2 separate regions of the Homo sapiens genome follow, and region 1 is linked to region 2. The links come from fine-mapping of genetic effects on gene expression. Tissue or cell type: whole blood. Region 2 holds a variant in brackets; the other region holds the start of a gene. All regions are shown on one strand. Distances are between the middles of the regions.

What was found. PIP is the estimated chance that this variant, and not a neighbour inherited with it, causes the effect.
Region 1: it holds the start of HAAO, and the variant in region 2 is fine-mapped to the expression of HAAO in whole blood (GTEx, PIP above 0.99).

What each region holds. Positions count from the first base shown.
Region 1 is chr2:42,791,162-42,793,915 of GRCh38, forward strand. It overlaps HAAO (3-hydroxyanthranilate 3,4-dioxygenase), which reads right to left and starts at 1,422. Exons shown (of 10, transcript NM_012205.3): 1 at 1,296-1,422. The coding sequence starts at 1,375. RefSeq lists silencers at 1,269-1,708, 1,889-1,988, 2,069-2,158.
Region 2 is chr2:42,836,983-42,839,736 of GRCh38, forward strand. No RefSeq gene overlaps it. Among named protein-coding and RNA genes, the nearest start is that of TRI-TAT2-1, 28 kb to the left of the region's middle. The variant A/G (reference allele first, on the strand shown) is at 1,122.

The DNA.
Region 1 (2,754 bases), 46 kb before region 2:
CCAATATGTCTGGTGTTCTTTTAAAAGAGGGAAATTTGGACACAGACACACACACAAGGAGACTGCCTTGTGAAGACGAAGGTGGAGGTGGGCGTGGTACAGCAGAAGCAAGAATACCAATGATGCCAGCAAACCACCAAATGCTAGGGAGAGGCCCGGGCAGATGGACGCGAGACCTCAGGGGGAGCGAAGGGAGGACTGAGAAGGAGCGACTGCAGATGGGGATGAAGTGTTGGAAGGAGGCAAAGATGATGCTACATCTTTAATTGGGGGTGGGCAACAACAGTGATAGAAGAGATCTTTGGGGAGATATTGACTGTTGGCCATGTGGTATTGCATGGTAACCAAGAGTGTGCGTGGACTCTGGAGTCGAACTGCTCCGTGGGTTGAGTCTGGAGCCTATCGCACAGGCGCTCCGTGACACTAGAAAAGTTACTTATGAAAATCCCCCCTCACGGTGCTACTGTGAGAATGAGATGAGATGATGTAAAAACACTTGGCATAGTCCTGGGCCTGCTGTTTGCCTTGAGGTGCCACCCTACTGACCATGTCCTGTGGACACAGCAAAAATGGGGAATGTAAACCTTGATCTAGCTGGCATGTGGGGCCCCGCCATGGAACTGGGGGGATGAGGGAGGTGACCATACCACAGGGGAGGGCCTGAGAGGTCTGCCTGAGAAAGATGGCAGCTGGATGGCCAACCCTGTTGGGTGCTGCAGGCAGAGGCTACTGGCAGAGGTGGCCTAGGGAGGGTCTGGTGTGGTGTGTGTGTGTGTGTGTTCGTGCACACCTGCATAGAGGGGCCCTGAAAAAAGCAAGACATCAAGATCTTCCCAAAGGAGCGGATTCTCTGCCTCCCCCTTTGCCTGTGGCTTCTGGGACAGGGTTGGGGTGTATGATTTGGCTGCCCCCAGGCCTACATTCTAGTGCATTTCTGCCTTGAAAACCACCCTCCCCACACTTTTGAGTTTTCCCAAAATGCACAGTGTCACTTGGGGTTGGAGAATTGTTTCTCAGCCCTGGAAGGAGAGGTGCACCCTGTCATGTCATCTCCTACAGCCTGAGAACCAGCTCAGCCTTCTTCAGAAGTCAAGGCCACAGTCACAAGAAAGAGGAACAGACCGATGTGGTGGAACCGGAACAGCCTGTCTCCATCTTCCCCCAAGAACCAAGAGATTAAAGCGGTCCTTCTGCAAGCTTCTGGGTCCAGGAACTCGGAGCTGGAAGGTGAGGGCGCAGATGGAGGAGGGGGAGGAGGCGAGGGCAGGGGGCGGCCATGGGGGTGCTGGACTCACATGAGCTTGTTGCAGACCGGGGGCTGGAAGGAGCCCCGGTTCTCCTTCACCCAGGCCCTCACTCCCAGGCGGCGCTCCATGACTGTCCCGGGCGCCTCCTCGCAGCGCTGTCCTCCCGCCGTCGGAGGCCCGCAGCTCCGCCCAGCCGCCTTTTTAACCAGAATCCCAAGCTCACGAGGCGGAGCAAACCCCCGCGACCCCGTGGTGGGGGCTTGGGGCCCGCGGACTTTGCCCCCTGGTGGACTTTGGTCTGAGCCCGCCGCCCTCCGCGCCACTCCAGGCCCTGGCGAGCGCGGCGGCGGCAGCGCTGGGGAACGGCGTCCCGCGCCCTCTGCTTCTCCGCGGGGCAGGGGCTCGGTCCCCGCCACCGTCTCCGGGGCGCCCCACACACTGGCGCCTGCGGTGGGGCCTGCTCCCGGCGGAGGACAAAGAATCCAGACCCTTCCTGGACGCTTGTCCCCAGACGTTCCTTCCCTCTACGCCCCGAGGGGAATCCCAGGGAAGGTTCCCAGAAATACTACAGTGAGGAGATCGCGGGTTGGAAGTCCCAGCACCTGAGAACACGGTGCTGGCGCTGGGCTCAAGATTTGGCTTTCCCATCTGGAAAAGGGGAATGACTGCCCCGCCACTCAGGGCTGCGGCGCTCACCCAGCGGGAAGCCGCACGGCGGTCCCCGCAGGTCCCGATTCAAGGTGAGCCCCAGACCTGCTGCGTGCGGCCGGCAGACTCCGCCGCGGGCTCGGCGAGGGGAGCGGTGCAGGCGCCGAGCTGCGGAGCCCGGGCTCAGGGCAGGACCGCGAGCCCTCCCCACCTGAGGCCCAGCCGAGCGGCCGCTGTCCGCGCAGTGTCGCAGTGGACCCCGAGCCCCGTGCTGAACTCCTTAGGCGTCTTAGGAACATACTCAGTTCGCACGCAGCTATGGGAGGAATTTGGCAGATGTGGACACCGGCCTCAGTGTCCTAGCCCTCGGGAATCTCGGGGTGTTAATGATGACAGCCCCGTGTGAGAGACTCTAACAGTTATCCTGGGGGTGAGGGGCTGGGGCGCTGGGCCTGGGCGTGCATGTGTGAGGAAAGAGAAATCTGCGCGGGTGTGGAAGATGGAGAAGCCTGTCTTTCTGCAGGACTCAGAACTTTCTTAGGAAGTTTGGAGGGAGTGGGAGCTGACGGGTAGGGGAGGAGGAAAATGGCTCAGGCCCCTGACACCGGAATCCAGACTATAGAGTTTAAGAAACTAAACGCCTCTAAATCCTGCCCTCACAGCCCGCCTGGCCTGGGCTGGTTTTCTCAGCATTCCAGACATAAAGACTCCTCTAGTACAACTCAAAATCAAAACCCAGACGACAGGAAGCCGAATTCCCCACTGAGACCCTCCCGTTTCCTCTCTGACGCTCTTTTTTTTTTTTTCATTTTTCTCTCTCCTTTTTTTTAGTTATTTATCTAGCACAGTTTTAGCTGAG
Region 2 (2,754 bases):
CTTTCAAAATAAGAAATGGTCTTAGAGCAAAGATAAAATTTAGGGCACTGCCCGTAAATTGTGGCCTTGGGTAAATGTGAAATCAAGAATGTGGCTGTAAAACCCTTTATTAAAACCTCAGAAAAATTTAAGGGCATTATTTTTGTAGACCTTTTGGATAGACAAAAGGGCTTCCGAGAATATTTTTTTCCCCCTTGAGACAGGGTCTTGCTATGTTGTCCAGGCTGGCCTCCAACTCTTAGGTACAAAGAGCCCTCTTGAGCAGCTGGGACCACAAGCACACACTGCCACGCCCAGTAAAGAATCTTCAGAGTATACATCTTAGATCCTCTCTGCTAGACAATAGGACTTCTAAGAATCCCACAGCAACCTCACAAGTGGCTTAAAGTAGAAGAAGGCCTACTAGGGGAGAAATGGGGGTATGGCTATTGTCTTAAGTAGTAAATTATCATTTGATATTTAAGAAACCCACAAGTTTTTGAAAGAATTGTATCAAGTTGGGTGGGAAGGGACGGAGACAGTTCAAAATGCAGCAGACCCTGGTCATTAGTTTCTTTCTTTCTTTTTTTTTTTGAGATGGAGTCTCACTCTGTTGCCCAGGCTGGAGTGCAGTGGCACAATTTTGGCTCACTGCAACCTCCATCCCCCGGATTCAAGTGATTCTCTTGCCTCAGCCTCCTGAGTAGCTGGGATTACATATGTATGCAACCACACCTGGCTAATTTTTGTATTTTTAGTAGAGATGGGGTTTCACCATGTTGGCCAGGCTGGTCTCGAACTCCCAACCTCATGTGATCCACCCACCTCGGCCTCCCAAAGTGCTGGGATTACAGGCGTGAGCCACTGTGCCCAGCTGCCCTGGTCATTTCTTATGGAGAAGGATGGATAATTGAGTGTGAAGCCAACAGCTAGGGACAGCCCCTCCCTGAGAGCAGGACCAGGTCTAATGAAGACACTGGTGACATGTGCCTGGCTTGCTTTCGGAATTGCACTGTGCTAGTTTCTTCTCCTTTTTGAATGAGAGTGTCTGTTGCCATTATCCTGTGTCCACTTTGTTGCTGTACGTTGGCCATGGGGGAAGACAACTTGTCTCTTTAGCTCACAGATCTTCAGGGCAAAAC[A/G]AACCCTCTCTAAAGAACCACACCTGAGGGGCCTTATTTGCACCTGGACCTGAGTTAGAGGTTGAGGTCCTGGATTTGGAGCCTGAACCTAAAGGCTTCATGGCTGATACCTTAATGGTCTTGGAAGGCGACTGTATTTTGCACGTGGGAGGTATGTGATTCATGGGAGGCAGAGGGCAGACATTGTGGCAGCTAGTCTTCCAAGATAGCACCCCCGTGTTCACACCCCTAGTATGCCCAACCTTGTGTATTCCCCTCTCTTAACTCTGGGTTGTCTCCGTGACTCGCTTTTGACCAACAGAAAGCAGTGATGGTGAGGCTGCATGACTTCTGAGGATAGGCCATGGGAAGCCTTTTGCCTTTCAGCTGGGTCTGTTAGAAAGCTTGCTCTGGGGTAAGTCAGCTATCATCTTAGAAATTTGATTCCTCTGAGGCCATCATACTATAAGGAAGCCAAGATAGCCACATGGAAAGGCCACATGGAGAAAGCAATAGATTCAGCCAGATTCCACTTGTTCCAGCCATCCCAGCTGAGGATGAAAGAAGATAGGTGAAAGAAGATGCTGCCATCTTGGATGTGCAGTCCAGTTGAGCCAACGTTTGACTCTAGACCAAGGGTGTCCAATCTTTTGGCTTCTGTGGCCACATTGGAAGAAGAAGGACTGTCTTGGGCCACACATAAAATACACTAACAATAGCTGATGAGCTAAAAACAAAAATCACGCACACAAAAAATACTCATAATTTTTTAGAAAGTTTATGGGCTGGGCATGGTGGCTCATGCCTGTAACTCCAGCACTGTGGGAGGCTGAGGCGGGTGGATCACCTGAGGTCAGGAGTTCAAGACCAACCTGGCCAACATGGTGAAACCCAGTCTCTACTACAAATACAAAAATTAGCTGGGCATGGTGGTGGGTGCCTGTAATCCCAGCTACTTGGGAGGCTTAGACAGGAGAATCACTTGAACCTGGGAGGCAGAGGTTGCAGCAAGCCGAGATCACGCCATTGCATTCCAGCCTGGGCAACAAGAGCGAAGCTCCATCTCAAAAAAAAAAAAAAAAAAAAAAAAAAGAAAGTTTACGAATTTGTGTTGGCCTGCATTCAAAGCCATCCAGGGTCTCATGCAGCCCATAGGCTGCAGGTTGGACAAGCTTGCTCTAGGTCCTGCTGCCATTTGACTGCGACTACATGAGAGACCTGTCCCCATAAGCGACCACTAAGTCCAGGTAACCCTGAGAGCTAAAAATATTTTGTTTTTATTAAAAATAATTGTTTTTAATTAAAAGCTTCTTTTGTGTGGAGATGGGGGTCTCTCTATGTTGCCCAGGCTGGTCTTGAACTCTTGGCCTCAAGTGATCCTCCTGCCTCGGCCTCCCAAAGTGCTGGGATTATAGGAGTGAGCCACCATGCCTGGCCAATTGATTTTAAAGCACTAAGTTTTGGGGTTTGTTATGCAGCAGAGATAACCAAAACAGCACAAAATTGCACCTATTTTAATAAAAATGTAAATTAAAGTAAATTGTAAAAGATCAAAGCTTAAAGTTACTTCTCTTGTAAGTTTTAAAAATTATTTTTTCTTAAAATCTTCAAAATTATCTATTAAAATTAAAAGGCAAACATAACTAATAGTATA